Linked DNA regions of Homo sapiens: all the other regions are reported to be linked to region 5. Evidence: microRNA targets listed by miRTarBase, many of them from high-throughput screens and not tested one by one. Region 5 holds a microRNA gene; each other region holds the end of a gene's coding sequence.

Region 1 (3,105 bases), not on the chromosome of region 5:
GACTGTGTGGCAGCCCTGCATGCCCTCCACCTCTCTGTCCCCTGGGGCACCGGACCCCACTTTGGCATTAGACCCCAGCCTCTGGCCACAGCTAACTGCCCAGGGGTCGGCCCCGACCCACTTGGCCAATCAGAGTCCCCCGTGCAATGCCAGGAGCTAGGACTCAGGGGGGCTGATTCCCCACCTCTTGTAGGGCAAGGTGTAAGCTCAGCGTGGCTGCAGGAGCGCCTGTACCCGCTGCTGGGGGAGAGAGACAGCGGTGATGTTGCCAGGCTGAGAGGCAGGAACCCATGAGGGAGCAGAGGGCACCACCTTGGGCTCTGCACAGTGACAGACCTGCTGGGTTTCCAAGACTTTCCACCCTCAATCCTAGCCCTAAAGGGTCACCCGCCGCCTCTGAGGACTGGGAATCGGGGGTGAGTGAGTGGAGGGCACTGAGCTCTCTCCCTGTTTCCCTCCCTCCATCCCTCCCTCCTCAGGATGGGAGAAGACCCTGATTTCCAGCCCCTCCAACGCCCACCTGGCTGCCCTGGGCACTCCCGGGGGCCTCTCCGCAACGCAAGGACACCAAAACCACAGGGCTTTGAAATCATCGATCGAGTTTAATACATTGTAAAGAAGGAAAACTACATTGGCGTATTTAAGACAAACACTTTTTCTCTATCCTCACTACCCACTGGACGGTCCTCCTTGGTCCAAAAAAAACCTAACAATCTCAAGACACATCGGCAGCTACCCCTCCCGGGTCCAACCTTTCAGATCCTCCCATTACACTGTTAAAACATGTAACTCAATCCATCCGCGAAGAAAACCAAACCAACAGAAAAGGAAGCTGAAGACATGGACATCGCAAGCCACGCGGTAATGCATACTTGGCACAGAGTAGCCAATATAGAAGACGTGTGCCTCACACGGTTCACTTTGTTCATCAATAAAAGAATATAAAAATCTTGTTCACCCAGTGGTAAGTGTATTAAAATAGATCTGTATCATACAGCACAGTTTCTCCCGGAGTCGTGAGAATGACAGGAGGGACCGTGGCAGCTGCGGGATTTGCCGGCCTCCTCGCTCTGCACCTCTGCGTGTGTGCATGCGTGTCTGTGGTCGTGGCCGCGTGCGATGCACACACGCGTGTTCAGTGCAATTCGGCACCATGTGATATGCTCGGGGTGGGAGCCCGTGGCTCCTGGACGCTTATCCTGTTGTGCTGAGTCCCTCAGGACTGGGATGTGGGAATCGGGCAAGGGTGACAAGCTGCCACTGCCCACCCTGGATGCAGAAGCCCTTGGCAGCAAGTCTGGTCCCCGAAGGCCGGAACCTCCCGAGCCACCGCCCTTTCTTTCCTCCCCAACCCTCCACCCGGCTCGTAAAAAACCTGCCGGATCTTCCAGCTTGGCCAGGCTTCCCGAGGGGAGGTGTTCCCATTTGTACCTTGAAGCAGAGACTACTAGAAGCAGAAAGGAAGTCAGCCAGAGTCCCCCCAACCATTCACATTAAATATCTCACAATAAAAACGCCATACAAAAGTGTGAAGTTATTTTTTGGCATAGTGTCTGCACTGGCAAGAAGGGAGGAGTGGAATACTTATCGGCTCTTCCAAAGGAGACAAGAAAGGGCTTCAGTCGTTAAGTTGAATGATTCAACCCCAAGGAGAAAACCTGCCAAATGCTGCCCCCCACAACAGGGTTGCAGCTCCACTCTGCCCAGAAACTCCATGAGAAAAACGCATCAACGGCAAACTGAGTCCAAGAGATTGGCAAAAGGAAGGAGGCAGCCTTGAGGACCCCAAAGACGGAGCAGGAAGGGCACAGGCTCTGGCGGGGATCACTGCAGCGTCCCGGCGCCCAGATGCTCACCTCCGACAGTGTCTTTCAAGTTAAACAGCTGCAATTCGTAACCCTAATAATACTGACAGAAAGGGGCCCAGGTGGTTCTGCAAAGGCGACGGAGTGCCCCAGGCCCGCCCGCCCACCCCAGGGGGACCTCCTAGGAGCGTGGGGCATTGAGGAACTACCTAGATCCACTACCCCGCTTCTCGTCCCAACTACCGCTACCACTCAGCTAGTCCATGTGTTCTCAGCTCGCCCTCCCACAGGACACCAATAGGCGGTGCCCTCAGTGGAGACTGCGTTCTGGGGGGCGTGCTTGTCCCCTCCACAGCCTCAGCCTGCCCCTCCAACGGGCCAGAGGGAGGCCGTGGAGAGCAGGGCCTGGAAGCCAGAGGCCCAGGCAGCCCCGAGGTGGCCGGGGGGAGACTGTGTGCCCCAGCCTGTCGTACCCCACCTGGCTCCTAGGTACCCCCTGTGAATTTGGAGGGCACAGGGCCGCACCCCCACCTGGTCCTGGCTCTAGGCCTCTCGCCCAGCTCTTCCTCCCTCCTCTCCTCTGTCTGGTTAATTTTTGTCTGAAATTCATAGTGTTTATGAATTAAGGCCGACAGAACCCCCAGGCTGTGTAAGCAGGGTCCCAATAACTTTCCGTGGGTATGAAGACTGGTCCCTCGGGGTCAGTTGTGGCCCTGGGGGTGCTGGACGGTGGGGTGTGTGGCTGCCACTGAGGGCTTGGTCCAGGGCCCGGCCAGCAGTGGGGCAGGGCTAGTGGTCGTCATGGTGACCTGGAGCAGCTGCTCGCCCTGTATCAGTCTCAGGAGGGCCCGCAGGCGGTCCAGGGATGACTGGGTGCCCCTCTGGCGGGCCAGCAGGCTTGTCTTCAACTCCAGGCATTTCTGTTGGGGAGAAGGTCAGGGGAAAGGGTCTCAGTATTCGGCTCTACAGCCATCCTGGGGCAGCCACCGTCTGGGCCCCTCTCCCCTCCACTACAAAGGCCTACAAGAAACCAGGCTGAGGGCTTCACAAAAACCAGGCAGTGGTGCAAATGCAATTAAAGAGCAGCCAGACCCACAGGAGATGATGCTCGCTTTGGAACTTAGGGCTAGAAAAAGTGTGGCTCTGCCTGGGAACGTCCTTCCCATGGCTGTGATGTGACCTCCTCCTCCCCGCTAGCTGCCCACACTCTTCCTCCTCCTCCTGCTGGCCAAACTGCAGCAGCCTCGGAGGCCTTTGGCTTCCCAGTCGCCTTTCTGCTCTTTCTCTCGCCTGTTGTGCT
Region 2 (3,121 bases), not on the chromosome of region 5:
AGGCACTTGCTGTCTTATCCAACCAACCATGTACAACTCTACCTCCACCCTTTAGCTATATACAAGGATTTCCTGTGTCAAAGAATAATGAGTGGGCCTGGCACGGTGGCTCACACCTGTAATCCCAGCACTATGGGAGGCCGAGGCTGGTGCATGACCTGAGGTCAGGAGTTCCAGACCAGCCTGACCAAGATGGTGAAACCCTGTCTCTGCTAAAAACACAAAATTAGCTGGGTATGGTGGTGCATGCCTGTAATCCCAAGCTACTTGGGAGGCTAAGGCAGGAGAATCGCTTGAACCCAGGCAGCAGAGATTGCAGTGAGCCGAGATCACGCCATTGCACTCCAGCCTGGGCAACAAGGGTGAAACTCCATCTTAAAAAAAAATTAAATTAAAAAAATAATAATAATGAGTAGGCAAACAGGGAAGAATATAGAGGAGAAAAATTATCTTAATAAGAACAATAGAATTTGAATTGAAGAAGGCTAGGAAATATATCTTAACTAGCCTAAAATACAAAAAATCAATGTTAATACTTGTGTTCTTCCAATGAGATGATATTTTTGAGGGCAGTACAAATTTCAATAGTTGCTTAAGTGAATTGGTAGAAAAAAGTTTAAGATTAGACAAAGTTCTGACCCCAAAGAACATACATTTGTTTTAATTACTCCCAATACAATTGATCTTATCAAGTTAGATGTGCTCTCAACACACATCAGTCTTAACCATAGGAGCCTTTACTCACTTGTTTAAGGCAGAAACTCAACTGCCTTACACAATATCCAGTAGCTTTCTTCATTCAATCCTCAAGAAAAACTTACCACTTTGTAATTTACCTAAACTGTTTACCTAGAGAAAACCTTTGTGTCCTTAGAATTAGCTGGATTACTCTTTGAGCTCCCTCCTGATTGGACGCTGATGCTGTTGAATGTGTCAGGAAACGTCCTCAGAAGTGGAGGGAGCTCAAGAGTTTTGTAAGTGGTTAAATTCTAAGGCTCACAAACCAAATTTTTTAGATGTATTCAAATGCCCGTGAAGCTTAGAATTTAACAAGAGGGCAAAAAAAGATGAGTCTGTTTTATTATCCTTGACTATGCGGGGTTTGAAATTTAAACATTTCAGAAACAATTTAGATCTATCCTTTGTGGTGAAGCTTAACCAGCTATTTCCCAGGTATATAGAGCCGGGGAATCTGTTATTTCTTTCATCAACTTTAATTTTCCTGGGGTTTTAGCTTTGTAAGTGTCACCATTATAAAAGAGAGTTAAGTTGATTTATAGAGGAAAAGCTAACATCATGGATCTTAAATGTAGTTATAGAACACTGAATGTATCCACTTTGCTGGTTTTATGGATCAGGAAAAAAGTGAAAACTGTGCCACTGAAAAATTACTTTTTCAGTGATTTTTAGAAAATTAAAATCAACCCAGGAAGCCCCAAAAATCCTGACGCTGAGGGTAGAAACATGATTTATATTTTATCATCATTCTCTTTCAACTCATGTAAACCTCTGGTCATAAAATCTCAAATTACTTTTTAAGGTGTCTAAGAAAACACTCTAGACCAAGTTAACAACCCTGGGGTTTTTAGTCAATGCAGTTCTAGCTCAGTCTCTGTCTCTGCATGCTTATTTATCTATGTGTGTATATCTTACTGTTTCTTAAATATTTTTTAATGTCTCTCTGACTCTTCTCCCTTTAACTGTTTTTTTTATTAAAAATGAGATATACCACATCTGTAATCCCAGCACTTTGGGAGGCCAAGGCGGGCAGATGACGAGGTCAGGAGATCGAGACCATCCTGGCTAACACGGTGAAACCCCGTCTCTACTAAAAAAATACAAAAAAATTAGCTGGGCGTGGTGGCGGGCGCCTGTAGTCCCAGCTGCTCAGGAGGCTGAGGCAGGAGAATGGCGTGAACCCGGGAGGCGGAGCTTGCAGTCAGCCGAGATCGCGCCACTGCGCCCCAGCCTGGGCGACACAGAGAGACTCTGTCTCAAAAAAAAAAAGAGGTATACTCAATGTTAAAAAGTAAAGAGAAGCCATGTAGGTAAGATGTTGTGGAGCTAGTAGTTAAAAAATAAAACTACTCATGATTTGGTATATCTTAAAATAAATTTTTATACATTATAACATATGTATAACATACAGTTATGCATTAAAGTAACTATTAATTTCCTATATGGAAGAAAATATTTAAAAATAATCCTGGTAGGAGTGAATTCATGTGAAATGTAGGCAGAAGTGATAGTTTAGAATATGCTTTAAAACAGATTTCATTTACTTTATATTCAATTTGATTTTACTGATTCTATAACTGGAAAAACTTAGAATTCTATAAATAACTATTTAAGGTTTCCATATTTCTACATTGATTTCTGATTTCTAAATTGTTATTTCGTTTGTGAAAAGTTCACAGTAGTAATTGAATGTTACATTTTAATAGCCACATATTAATATGTCTTATGAGAAGATCTAATATATACAACCTTAAAACCATGGATAAGCTGTGAAGAAAAAAAGTCAATGAAACTTGAGGAGGAAAATAATTTATGAATTAAAAATGCCACGCAAATTTTCTTTTTCAGAATTGGTATAAAAATTCTGAAAGAGAAGCTGCTACTCAACTAGGATAGTATCCACATTTTCTTGTGTGAGCTCTGACTCTAAGGCACAAGGCAAGTCTAAGTGTTCTTGTGACAAGCGAGAACTTTTCAGGGAGACATCAGACCAGCTGTCACAGTATGGCTGAAATCTCTGGGCCAATGCATTACCAAACCTTTGGCATCGGTTATATCTGTAAGATTTACCTTTGTGTGTATACATGTGTTCCAACAATTGGCTCTTTCGAGGGAATTTATGACCACAGATGGTACAGCTCATTTTTCTTTTCCTTGAAAAAGAAAAATTACAGTTTAATTCTACTGGCTCTGTGTCTTTGGAGATCAAAGATACTTGACTGATCTGCAAAGGCTCTGTGGTACCCCGGTTGGTGTGGTCTGGCTGCTGTTCATTCTCCTTAACAATGAAGGAGCTGAGCCTGCGGCATTCAAGGGCCTCGCTGTTTTCATTAAGGGGATGCACTTCACCAAGGTCATTACTTTCCAGAATGGAAGCAGGGAC
Region 3 (3,110 bases), not on the chromosome of region 5:
ATAAAAAGACAATTGAAAAGAATGAAGAAAATGTATCAAAGTTCATGTGAGATTGACTAAAACTACTGTTTTTACATAGCCTTAAATATGTTTTTTAATCTTAAGCATAAGCATTTGCCCAACCTTACAGAACACTTTTTATATTCTTATAAATATCCCAATTGTTCTTTTTCTTCTAGGGGATGTTCGTCTAACCCCAGAAGACTTTGCTAGAGCTCAGAAGTACTGCAAATATGCTGGCAGTGCTTTGCAGTATGAAGATGTAAGCACTGCTGTCCAGAATCTACAAAAGGCTCTCAAGTTACTGACGACAGGCAGAGAATGAAGCCTTTGTATGACAGACCCATGTATTTTTGGCATGAGGAACTAACAGTCCATTACTCTATCTTCAGCCTATCAGGATCACAGTTTTAAGGAAGACTTGGTTTTGTTGAATATGACAATGAAATCTGTGTGTATCAGATTTTTATTGAAGCATTCATCAGCAGCCTCAACCAGTTTTCATTGTCCATTTACTAGATTCAATCGTCTCTGAGTATATAGGGCTGATGTTAGCAAGACCCTAAAAATGTCCATTGAACCCTGCTTCAAAAAATGAAAACACACCTCTATAAAATGTGTACTGGGAATAAGCTTTGTATTTACATACATTAGGGGAATTTTTTAAAATCTGTAATGTTTGGACAAACAGATGATATTACTTTGCTATAAAATTATAAATGTAACTTTTAATAAAGATAGCCAGAATATTCTAAATTAGAAATTACGTTTTTGTTTCCCTCAAGACATAAAACAAATATAAACATTCTAAACTGCTGGATGAATCTGAAAAGACATTAAGTTCAAATTTTAATTTATTCTCATATTAAATATAACTCCATTAAAAGTTTAAAATTTCATGGGAGAAAATATAATAAGGTAAAGAGGTAGAATCACTTTCAGACTTAAGAATAATGTTGATTTCCCAAGTGCTTTACCTTATCTGTTAAAGCGTAAGATGAATTGGTATTTGCTTCATAGGCAGTTTGACTGCATGTATTAGAGAATGAAAAGAAGATATTTGTAGTAATGCCTGGAAACTTGGTGCTTTAAATTAAGGTACTCCTCTGCTGCTGTAGAATGGATTCCACACAGTGGATAGCTATGGGTGATTCAGAATATTATGTTTAGATTCCCATTTGTTAAGTTTATAAGTTTTGTGGGGAATTATGAACTTACTGTGTACTACCTGCATTTGTGCTGTGTGAAAAATAAATACAAGGATTCGTTTAGCTAATTCAACTTACTACAAAGACAAATGTCTGTTTTTATTTGCCTGCTAGGATTGTCTTTTTTAAAAGTCATTTTTATTTATAGGAATATGGGTGTTTCTATAGGAAGAAACAGGTTTTTTGTTTTTTGTTTTTTAAGATAAATTTGACAAAGTTAACTGAAATTTATCTGGTCCATTTTATTCATGCTACTAAGATGGGAATCTTTAAACACAAGGGTCAGCAAGCTTTGGCCCATGGATTGGCCACCTGTTACGTAAATAAAGTTTCTTTGAAACAAGCCTACACTCATTCATTTATGTTTTGTCTGTGGTTGCTTTCCACAACTGCAGAGTTGTATGGCTTGCAAGTCTAAAAACATTTACTATTTGGCCCTCTAAGAAAAAGTTAAGACACCTAGTCTAATGGCCTTTTGGGAAAAAACAAATCACTAACTCATAATCATTTATATCCATTATTTTCTGCATAAATGTAATGCTATTGTACAGGGTTTGGTAGAATAAATATTCAGACTGACTAAACTGTTCTAAATCCTCACAAAAAAGTCCCCAAACAACATGCCTCCTAAAAAACATTTTCCTATCTTTTACAAGAGGTATGAACATTTGTAGGGTTCCACATTTGCATCTAGAAATCCAATGCTCTTTAGAATGTTATTACGAATAGAAAGATGGCCAGGATGACCTTTAGTGTTACATGATGTTCAGCAAATTTTAATTCAAACCTTGATATGCCTGGACACTGAAAAGTAAACGCATCACCTCCTATTTTATACCCTACCTTCTGGTTCCCAATTGGGAGAGCACATAGAGGGAAGGAGACAATATAGAAACTACGGAGTCCGCTGGTAGTGGGCTGCATGGTGTGACAGAGCCCTTCTCTGTAAAATGGAAATGACACCACTAGCCATCTCAATAGTTACAAGAATTAAAAGAGATACAGTACCTGAAGTGCTTAGCGCATGGTAGCATTTCATAAATGTTTAGTGTCAATACTAATGCTCTAATAATGTAAATTGTTAATAATTTATTTCCCTAATATCAGGAAATCCCAGTTGTCTATGTGGCCCAGTGCTTAAAAACGCCTTCTTGCATGAGGGGATTGAACTATACAATGTTTGTTAACTTTGTATTTGTATTTTTTCCTATAAAATCTTAAAATAAAATTAGGAGATGTGTTCTGATGTAACAGTAGGATTAGCAATTTTCATTTATTCCTTCCATATATATTTACTGAATGGCTACTATATGCCTGGTATTGTTCTTTGAAAGCAGAAACAGCAGGAAAAAAAGTCCCTCCCTCATAGAGTTTACATTCTAAAAGGGAGGAAATAGATAATAAAATATACATTACATTTAATCAGTGGCTCTCCGAGTGTGATTAGAAATACAAATTTTGGGCCCCACCTGTCCTACCCAATCAGAAACTCTAGGGATGGGTCCCAGCCTTCTGAGTTTTAAGAGACACTTAAGGTGGTCCCTAAAGTTCGAGTGGTTTAGCTCTACCCAAATCAGAAATATTGCAAGTCTGAGAAAAGAGATTCTCCTCAAACCGGTTCTCAAAGGTGTCTCTGGACGACCGGCATCAGCATCACCTGCGAACTTGCTAGAAAGTTCTGGGGACCACACTATGGGAACTTCTGTATTAAATAGTGATAAATGCTATGGAGGAAACATTGAGGACAGGATAGGAGATGCTTAGGTGTGTACAGACATATGCATATTTCAATAGAATAGCCAGGATAGACCTCCCTGAGGTAACATTTGAGCAAAGAAGGAAAAGAGTAACTAGTATGCAGATACATACATGGAGGAAGAGCATTCCCAACAGGTAGACAGA
Region 4 (3,121 bases), not on the chromosome of region 5:
TGGGGGAGGGGTGCAGGGGGAGACTTGCACCGTGACACCTGCTTCCACCACCCAAGAGCAGTTCTCAGCCTGTGCCCGCTCACCCCCACTGCAGGATGGCTGCAGAGAAAGGCTGAGTCTGCAGCGGATGCCCCCCTGCAGTCCTCTACAAACCCTGAGGGACTTTCTGAGACAAGTGTGTAAATTGCTCACATCAGACCTGATTGAACTGACTCTGGCAAAGGGAGCCGTGAGTGAGGGAATTCTCTCAGGGGAATTCTACCCCAGTGAGATCACAGTCAGGAGAAACTGAAGAGAGGCTGTGCCACCTTCACTGGCATCGCTGGGTGTGGCCCTCTGAGTGGAAGGGGCTCGAAGGAACACCCACTCTGTGCACACAGACTTCCGCCCAATGTAGACTAAGCCAAATAACAAAACGGCCAAGCGCAGAGTGAGTAAAGAAGGCAGCGTGGGGACCTGTAGATGAGGCTCTGCAAACAGACGGATGAGGTGGGGGCTGGTGGGAGCACTGTGGCAAAGGCTCTGGGGCCAGAGGCCACCCCTGAAGTACTCCAGAAACAGAAAAGATTTTCAGGGAGGTTGCACATCTCCCAATGCACTAGGCTTTTGCTGTTGATATTAACAAAAATTAAAAATTGCATTGATAGGCATAAACCAACCCACCCACCCCACCCACAGCAAAAAACGCACGAGGCCCCGGGTCCCACCGTGCAACTGCAGCACTTGTCTGCTGAGTCTCTCCGCCCGGATGTGTCTGCTCCGGAATCTGCACTTTGGGGGTTCCTGCGGAGGCGGCTGAAACTCCTTACCAGGAAGCCAGGCCAGGGGACAAGGGCAGGGCAGCTTTGCTCAAATGTGGGCCTCCCCCACATTCCATCAGCACCACTGCCCCTGTCTCAGGGAAGCGGTCTTCACCCTGCACAACTCACAAGACCACCCTACTCTCCACTCCCACCCCCACAAAACACGAATCCTGATAATGCCAACGGTTCTGTCCTCCTGTTCCCGATTTGTGTGTTACTTAAGGTGAACAGAGGAGTGACTGGTGCTGGGTGGCCGTGTCTCAGCTCTTGGATCAGACAGGCAGGTGGAGGCTGGAGAAGAGACCTGGCCCCAGTGGGAAACCAGGGTGACAAGACAAACTGTATAGGAAAGGCAGCCGCCCACCAAGGCCCCACCTGATCAAGTGCAGCAGACGCTGGCTAGCGGGTGAGGTCCCCGTGCTCAGTCCCACGGATTCGCGACCTTTTTGAACGGCAAAACAGTAAGCCAGACCAGCTGCAGTTTGGAGGGGGCGCCCTGCTGCAGCTGAATCCCACTCCTGGCCTCACTCCCCAGCCCGTTTCTCTCCCATGCCCAGCTCTGCACGTGCGTGACTCCGGCTGCTTTCTTCCCGTGGCTCCGGTAACAAGAGCCAGTCTGACCTCTCTTGGGTTTTCTGTATTTCTTCTCCTTGGGATCACAGATGATATAATCGCCACCCAACCCACTGCTGATGTCCGTGGCCCCAGGGAAGGAGGCGAAGATCTTGGGACCCAGGTGGACGTGATTCCCTCCTTCCCAGCAGGGCAACCCACAGCTGAGCAAGGCTGGCGGGGAGGACCGTGGGTCCTCACCCCTGTGGGTCCCCTGCCACTGTCCCAGCACAGCAAAACCTAAGGACTGCTTCCCCTTCCAGAAGCAAGGGGGAAAGTGAGCAGCATCCGAACTAGAGAGGTATTTGTCTGACAGTTTCTAGCAGGAATGTCTGTGAAATAACTGGGGTGTGCAGAACCTGTTGTGGGAATACCCACATGGGGTGGAAGGGGAAGCCTCGCGTGCCAGCAGAGAGCGGGAGGAAGGGAGAAAGAAAAAACCAACAACTGCTCATCAGTGAAAAGTCTAAGGACCCCTCTAGCTCTGCCACAGCACCGTGGGGCCCCCCTGCCCTGGCATTTCCAGCTCGATTGGTTAGCAAACGCCACCTCCCGTGCAGGGGCACCTCCAGCCTGCTTCACGCTCCACCCGCCTCTCCCAGGCTCCTGTCCTCAGACACCAGGCCTGGCAAGGTCCCGTGTCCTGTCCACGCCCCCTCCTTCCCACACGTTCTGAGGGCGCAGGCGCGCCCCATCCGAGAGCCTCCTGGGTGTCGCACGGTGGTCTGTCCTGATTGAGACTGGACAGATGTCCTCTCTTCCCACCCATCCCTCACCCTCAGGGAAAAAAAGTCAAACCATTAAAGAAATCAACACAGTAAAAAGTTACAAATCAGAAATCTAACCCTAAACTTATCTGAGAGATAATATTCCTGAATAATCATAGAGTAAAATAAAATAAAAAAGTTACATTGTAAGGTATAAAAAGCCTGGGCGAGATGCTCCAGGGGCCTTGCCCAGAGGCCGGCAGACCCCCGCCCCGCCAGGTGCCCCATGGTGGCCATGGATGTCGCAGCCCCCGCTGGGGCGGTATCTCCACGGGGCGGGCACTCTGCTCCCCACCCCATGTGGGGACAAAGTGTCAGTGTGAGGAAGGGCAGGGGCAGAAGCCCATCAGTGCCGGGGGTTCCTCCGGAGCGCACCCCAGCCCACCCTGTCGTCTTTGGCAAATACGCATATGCAGATGCAGGAATCCAGGGGCCCCGAGCCCCAGGTCTCCGTGTGCCTCCTCCTCCCTGGCACTCCACCCACTGAGAAGTCCGAGGCTGAGGCAGGGTAGGTGGGGTAGGGCAGGCTGTGGGGGGTGGGTGCAGGGGTCATATCTGGAGAGCGCAGGCAGGTGACACAAAGCTCAATCCTCTTCCCTCCACAGGGCAGCAGGGCGGGGTGGGCACTCCCGGCCAGCCCGCTCATGCGTCGTACTTCTTACCAGTCCGGTGGATGTGCTGGAAGAGGGTCATGGAGAAGGCCATGCCCAGGATCTGAAAGACACGGGGAGGGGCCTGAGGCAGGAGCTGCAGCAGCCTGGACCTGACCTCAGCCCCGAGAGGCTTGGGATGTCACAGGGCACCTAGAGCAAGCGGGGATGGCCACTGGTGTGCCAGGAAAATGCTTATGGAATGAAGACATGAAGAAAACCGTGAACAGAGGTCACCCTGGAGACACACACAGGTGAACTCTGGCTCAGCCTCGTGGGGCTGTTAGAC
Region 5 (3,000 bases):
ACCTTGTCCCCTGCCTCGCATTGGCCGACAGCCCCGTCACCCTGACCCTGGTCACCCCCATCAGCTGGGTCACCCCGTTACCCCCATGCCCCGGTCATTCCGGTCACCTTGTCCCCTGCCTCGCATTGGCCGACGGCCCCGTCACCCTGACCCTGGTCACCCCCATCAGCTGGGTCACCCCGTTACCCCCATGCCCCGGTCATTCCGGTCACCTTGTCCCCTGCCTCGTATTGGCCGGCGGCCCCGTCACCCTGACCCTGATCACCCCCATCAGCTGGGTCACCCCGTTACCCCCATGCCCCGGTCATTCCGGTCACCTTGTCCCCTGCCTCGCATTGGCCGGCAGCCCCGTCACCCTGACCCTGGTCACCCCCATCAGCTGGGTCACCCCGTTACCCCCATGCCCCGGTCTTTCCGGTCACCTTGTCCGAGTTGTTCTTGAGCTGCACAAACTTGCCCTCCAGGTCGATCTCCTCGATGCTGACGCTACCCGAGGCCGAGGCCTGCTGGGCCAGGTGGAAGCCACCGCTGCCACCCGTGCCCGTGCCCAGGACGCTTGGGCCGCTGCCCAAGGGCTCCTCCACCTCCAGCCGCTTCCGCTTACTGCGGCCCAGGCGCCCGGTGGCGGACAAGCTGCCGCTGCTGCTCGAGGTGGCTCGTGAGACGGTGACGCGCGAGGATGGGCTGGGGGACAGCTTCAGCCTGTGGGGAAGGCAAGGAAGGTGGGACTGGTAGTGGGAGCCCCAGACAGCCCAGGGCACGCAGAGTGGCGGCCACGGCCCGGCCCCACCTCCACCCCTGCCCAGCACTCCCCGCAGCCCCGTCCCGCCTCTCCTCCTGCCCTGCCCCTCCTCCTCACTCTGTGCTCCCAAGCCTCCTGGCCTGCCGCACCTCTCCTCCTCGCCCTCCAGGAGCTTCCGGTAGGCGTTGATCTCCATGTCCAGGGCCAGCTTCACGTCCAGCAGCTCCTGGTACTCGGCCAGCTGCTGCTGCATCACGTCCCGCATCTCCGTCATCTCCTGCTCCTTGGCGTCCAGCATCTTCCGGAACTTGTCCCGCTCCCCGGCCATGGCCTCCTCCAGCTCCCGAATGCGATCTTCAGCGGCACTGGCCTGCGGAGGGGGCGGGTGGCGAAGGTCAGGGCAGCCCATGGGTCACAAGGCCCAGGTGATCCTGGGACTGCGGGAGATGGGCCCTCACCACAGACTGGGGCAGAGACCAGGCCTGGGCATGGGGCGCACGGGAGGGGAGGGAAGGGGCATCGCTGGGCGCCCCGAGGGCTGCATCCGATGCCAAGAGGCCAGAGCCCCACGCCCCGCACATCCAGGGCAGGGCCCAGAAGTTGGGCCAGGGGGACGGCAGACGGTGGCGCTGTGCTCATCACCTGCTTCTGGAGGCCGGAGAGCTGGTAGCTGAGGGACTCCAGGCGCATGCGGGCCTCCTTCAGCTCCTCGCGAGCCGCACTGGCCGCCTTGTCGTTCTGGTCAGAGCTCAGCTTGGCGCTGTCCAGCTGTGGGGAGACGGGCGGGTGAGTGCGGGCGCGGGGCGGGGCGGGGTTCCCACCGGCCGCCCCCGCCCACCCGCCTGCCGGCCACACCTTGGCCTGGTAGGTCTGCTCCAGCTCCAGCTTGTAGAGCCGCACTTGCTCGTCGTGCTGGCTCCGCAGCTCCTCCAGCGCCTGTGCCATCTTGAAGTCGTACTCCTGCTGCCGGCTGCTGTCCACCTCCACCAGGCGCCGCTCGTGCCGCCGCCGCGTCTCCCGCACCTCCTGCGGACCAAGGCTTCGTGACCCTCTGGTCCCGCCTGGGCCCCAAGCACCAGGCCCAAGGGAGGGCTCAAAAATGTGCCAAGAGGAACCTCCAGGCAATTCCTGGTTCCTTGTGCACAAGTTACAAACCGATACACGTGCAGGTGAGAGGCGACCCAGGGGCCGTCCACGCGCTAGAACGTGACTCAGCCACGAAAAGGAGCGAGGCTCTGACACCGCCACAGCATGGATGCACCTTGAGGACGTCACACTCAATGAGAGACGCCAGACACAAAAGGCCACACGGTGCGTGATCCCATTTCCATGAAATGTCCTGAAATGTCCAGGACAGGCCCATCCACAGAGACAGGGAGGGGATGCGTGGGGGCCAGGGCTGGGGACTGCTGATGGGGAGGGGGTTCTTTTTGGGTGATGGAATGTTCTAGAATTAGAGGTGGTGGTTGCACAACCCTGTGGAGATCCTGCCAATGCTGAACTGTACACTTTAAAAAGGTGGACTTAAAATAGCCAGGTGTGGTGGCGGGCACCTGTGGTCCCAGCTACTCAGGAGGCTGAGACAAGAGAATCGCTTGACCTTGGGAGGTTGCAGTGAGCCAGGATCGCACCATTGCACTCCAACCTGGGTAACAAAGTGAGACTGCGTCTCAAAAAAAAAAAAAGTGACTCTCTCTTATAAAAGCCATTATTGAAGAAAGCGGGCCAGGCGTGGTGGCTCATGCCTGTAATCCCAGCACTTTGGGAGGCTGAGGCAGGCAGATCACGAGGTCAGGAGTTCGAGACCAGCCTAGCCAACATGGTGAAACCCCATCTCTATTAAAAATACAAAAATTAGGCCGGGCACAGTGGCTCAAGCCTGTAATCCCAGCACTTTGGGAGGCTAAGACAGGTGGATCATGAGGTCAGAAGTTCAAGACCAGCCTGACAAACATGGTGAAAACCCCGTCTGTACTAAAAATACAAAAATTAGTCGGGTTGGTGGCACCCGCCTATAATCCCAGCTACTCAGGAGGCTGAGGCAGGAGAATCGCTTGAACCCAGGAGGCGGAGGTTGCAGTGAGCTGAGATCATGCCACCGTACTCCAGCCTGGGTGACAGAGCAAGACTCCGTCTCAAAAGAAAAAAATTAGCTGGGTGTGGTGCTGTGCACCTATAATCCCAGCTACTCGGGAGGCTGGGCCCAGTGTGGGCAACAGAGCAAGACTCCATCTCAAAAACAAAACAAAACAAAACAA
Region 6 (3,121 bases), not on the chromosome of region 5:
CCCGCATAGAGGAGATGCGAGCTCTGCGCTCTGCCAGGGCCCCGAGCCCGTCAGAGGCCGCCCCGCGCCGCCCGGAAGCCACCGCGGCCCCCCTCACTCCTAGAGGAAGGGAGCACCGCGAGGCTCACGGCAGGGCCCTGGCGCCGGGCAGGGCGAGCCTCGGAAGCCGCCTGGAGGTAACTGGGCGAGGGCCGCGCAGGGAAGGGCTCAGCAGGAGGTGCAGGCCACGGGCCGCTGCTGAGAGGTCCTCACCCCGGGCCCCCTTGTTCCCGCAGGACGTGCTGTGGCTGCAGGAGGTCTCCAACCTGTCAGAGTGGCTGAGTCCCAGCCCTGGGCCCTGAGCCGGGTCCCCTTCCGCAAGCGCCCACCGATCCGGAGGCTGCGGGCAGCCGTTATCCCGTGGTTTAATAAAGCTGCCGCGCGCTCACCAAGTCCTCTTCCGCGTCTGCTTCCGCGTCGGGCCCGGGCGGGGCGGGGCGGGGCGTGGAGCCGCGCCGCGGCCTGACGTCACCCACACCTCCCTGGGACTGCGTCACTGGTGCGCGCCGCGGGTCAGGGCGCAATGGCGGCGCTGGGCGGGGATGGGCTGCGACTGCTGTCGGTGTCGCGGCCGGAGCGGCCGCCCGAGTCGGCGGCGCTGGGCGGCCTGGGCCCCGGGCTGTGCTGCTGGGTGTCAGTGTTCTCCTGCCTCAGCCTCGCCTGCTCCTACGTGGGCAGCCTCTACGTCTGGAAGAGCGAACTGCCCAGGTGCGGGGGCTGCGCGCGACCGGAATCCGCGCCCTGCGGGCGGAGCTTGGGCGAGCCGGGGGCGGGTCCGTGCTCATGGGCAGCCGCGGGCCCCCTGAACTTACTGTCCCCTCCGTAGGGACCATCCCGCGGTCATCAAGCGACGCTTCACCAGCGTCCTGGTGGTGTCCAGTCTCTCACCCCTGTGCGTGCTGCTCTGGAGGGAACTCACAGGCATCCAGGTGCGAAGGAGGCGGGGCAAAGGGCAACGGCGGTGAGAGCTCAGGGGTCTTTAGGGGAGGAAGCAAAACTGATGCCCCCTTTCCTGTGGCTCAGCCAGGCACATCCCTGCTCACCCTGATGGGCTTCAGGCTGGAGGGCATTTTCCCAGCGGCGCTGCTGCCCCTGTTGCTGACCATGGTGAGTGCTCCTGCTGTATTTTTTCTTCTGGTCTTTGTTATCAGCCTGATGGGCAGTGCCGTGGACTCTTGTTTTTGGTTTTTGGTTGATGGGAGACAGGACTTTTGAGATGGCCCCAGGGTCCTCCGGTATGCATGGTCTGGAAATCGTGGCTGGAGAGGATTTCAAGCTTGGAGTCTCAGGGAGCATGGGCAAAGGTCTGGGCAAAAGCGGTGGGTTATGGTGAAAGTGTTTTCTTGCCCTCAGATTCTTTTCCTGGGCCCACTGATGCAGCTCTCTATGGATTGCCCTTGTGACCTGGCAGATGGGCTGAAGGTTGTCCTGGGTGAGTCTTAAAGGCTGAAGGGAAAAGTAGGCACAGGCAGTCCAGGACATTGGGGCAGGGAGTCAGCGGGCTCAGGGTGTGATCTGGACACGTGAAATGTCATCTCTCTGGGTGTGTTTTCTCATCAGTAAAATGGAAACATAGAGCTAGGTGGCCTCTAAGGGTTGATTGCCAACGTCCAAGGAGTTCCCTGGGAACCCCCAGCAGTATTTGGTGTGGATCAGAGAGCACTGTCCCCTGCTTCCCCAACCAGAGCTAGTCTTGCTTAAATTTTGGTGTCTCCAGAGTTTACTTCCAGGATGCCCTTGCCTCAGCTAATGCCTTCCATTCAGGTCATCTCAAGACATTGGGTTTATGTTGGGTCCACACCCCCGTCCTCAGCAGTATTGATGCCTAACCTGAGTTTGGCCAGGGTAAAGTTGTGGGAGAGGAGCCCTTGGAGCCTCTGGGGTCTCACTGTCTGACAGCCCGTCACTCACAGCTTGTCCTGAATTCCCTCTGCAGCCCCCCGCTCCTGGGCCCGCTGCCTCACAGACATGCGTTGGCTGCGGAACCAAGTGATCGCCCCGCTGACAGAGGAGCTGGTGTTCCGGGCCTGTATGCTGCCCATGTTAGCACCGTGCATGGGCCTGGGCCCTGCTGTGTTCACCTGCCCGCTCTTTTTTGGAGTTGGTGAGTCTGGCCAGATTAGTCCTGGTGTGTTTTCAGCATGAGAGCTCAGAAGGGGGCTTGAGGTGAGGGGCAGTCCTAGAAGGGAGGCTGGGAGGAATGACTGTGATGTGATTGTCACCTTTTTCCCAGCCCATTTTCACCATATTATTGAGCAGCTGCGTTTCCGCCAGAGCAGCGTGGGGAACATCTTCTTGTCTGCTGGTGAGTCCTGGCTAGCTGGCCTGGGTTAGGGTGTATGATGATGTCGCTAATGGCCACTCTGGAGAAGGAATTGGGAACTGAGGGCCACAGTATTGGAGAGGCCACTGACCGTGGGAAGTTGGGGTGCAGGACAGCTGTAGGTGGTGGGGCAGGCAGCTACTGCCCCGGGGGGAGGGGATGGTCGGTCTTTGGCTGATGGGTATGTAGTGTGGGGGCAGGAAGGGCGTGCAGGTGTGGTCACTCGTGGCCTCCCCGTCTCCAGCGTTCCAGTTCTCCTACACAGCTGTCTTCGGTGCCTACACTGCTTTCCTCTTCATCCGCACAGGTTGGTCCTCAGTCCCTCATGGGTCCCTGGGGGCCCACAGGAGCGGGTGGGAGAATGGGAATACTGTTTGTTCTAGGAACAAAAGTTCTTCTACTCCAGTCCTTGAGACAGGCTGAGCCAGAGCCCTCAGCCTGGTGAGGTCTGAGAGGTGGAAAGGAGCAGAGGCCGTGGTGTGTGGGTGGATGGCTGGGGTAGTGGGATCTTGATCTCCTGTTTCAGGGGATGAGGGTCACTAGCCCTGGAAGGGCCAGAGGAGGTGGTAGGGCTGCTCCCTGAGCTGCTGTCTCTTTTCCCCAGGACACCTGATTGGGCCGGTTCTCTGCCATTCCTTCTGCAATTACATGGGTTTCCCAGCTGTTTGCGCGGCCTTGGAGCACCCACAGAGGCGGCCCCTGCTGGCAGGCTATGCCCTGGGTGTGGGACTCTTCCTGCTTCTGCTCCAGCCCCTCACG

Evidence for each region. The annotated mature microRNA hsa-miR-7108-3p reads ACCCGCCCGUCUCCCCACAG and lies in region 5 at 1,511-1,530, opposite strand. An mRNA with a match to its seed (bases 2 to 7 or 8) in the 3' UTR can be bound and repressed. Matches are read on the target gene's strand: a 7mer-m8 pairs with bases 2 to 8, a 7mer-A1 pairs with bases 2 to 7 and ends in A, and an 8mer does both.
Region 1: miRTarBase lists PHF21B as a target of hsa-miR-7108-3p. Seed matches in the 3' UTR shown: 7mer-m8 at 1,964-1,970 and 7mer-m8 at 1,960-1,966.
Region 2: the mRNA of ZBTB25 is a reported target of hsa-miR-7108-3p. The part of its 3' UTR that is shown has no 7-base or 8-base seed match.
Region 3: the mRNA of VTA1 is a reported target of hsa-miR-7108-3p. The part of its 3' UTR that is shown has no 7-base or 8-base seed match.
Region 4: miRTarBase lists TSPAN9 as a target of hsa-miR-7108-3p. Seed matches in the 3' UTR shown: 7mer-m8 at 2,389-2,395.
Region 6: miRTarBase lists TOP6BL as a target of hsa-miR-7108-3p. Seed matches in the 3' UTR shown: 7mer-m8 at 465-471, 7mer-m8 at 470-476, 7mer-m8 at 475-481 and 7mer-m8 at 574-580.

Annotation. Positions count from the first base shown.
Region 1 is chr22:44,880,580-44,883,684 of GRCh38, forward strand. It overlaps PHF21B (PHD finger protein 21B), which reads right to left. Exons shown (of 13, transcript NM_138415.5): 13 at 583-2,725. The coding sequence ends at 2,507. Among named protein-coding and RNA genes, the nearest start is that of PHF21B, 130 kb to the right of the region's middle.
Region 2 is chr14:64,484,306-64,487,426 of GRCh38, forward strand. It overlaps ZBTB25 (zinc finger and BTB domain containing 25), which reads right to left. Exons shown (of 3, transcript NM_006977.5): 3 at 1-3,121. The coding sequence ends at 2,618. Among named protein-coding and RNA genes, the nearest start is that of ZBTB25, 18 kb to the right of the region's middle.
Region 3 is chr6:142,218,319-142,221,428 of GRCh38, forward strand. It overlaps VTA1 (vesicle trafficking 1), which reads left to right. Exons shown (of 8, transcript NM_016485.5): 8 at 180-3,110. The coding sequence ends at 325. Among named protein-coding and RNA genes, the nearest start is that of LINC02919, 40 kb to the right of the region's middle.
Region 4 is chr12:3,282,820-3,285,940 of GRCh38, reverse strand. TSPAN9 (tetraspanin 9) reads right to left here. Exons shown (of 9, transcript NM_006675.5): 9 at 1-2,896. The coding sequence ends at 2,825. Among named protein-coding and RNA genes, the nearest start is that of LINC02827, 16 kb to the left of the region's middle. RefSeq lists enhancers at 714-1,214, 1,215-1,715.
Region 5 is chr19:2,433,404-2,436,403 of GRCh38, forward strand. MIR7108 (microRNA 7108) reads right to left here and starts at 1,597; the gene lies at 1,511-1,597. It overlaps LMNB2 (lamin B2), which reads right to left. Exons shown (of 12, transcript NM_032737.4): 5 at 1,598-1,768; 6 at 1,385-1,510; 7 at 892-1,112; 8 at 423-702. RefSeq lists an enhancer at 181-869.
Region 6 is chr11:66,842,894-66,846,014 of GRCh38, forward strand. It overlaps TOP6BL (TOP6B like initiator of meiotic double strand breaks), which reads left to right. Exons shown (of 15, transcript NM_001302084.2): 14 at 1-176; 15 at 276-623. The coding sequence ends at 341. RCE1 (Ras converting CAAX endopeptidase 1) reads left to right here and starts at 548. Exons shown (of 8, transcript NM_005133.3): 1 at 548-747; 2 at 866-968; 3 at 1,063-1,146; 4 at 1,393-1,471; 5 at 1,976-2,143; 6 at 2,273-2,344; 7 at 2,607-2,669; 8 at 2,967-3,121. The coding sequence starts at 563. RefSeq lists silencers at 89-228, 339-778 and an enhancer at 419-1,125.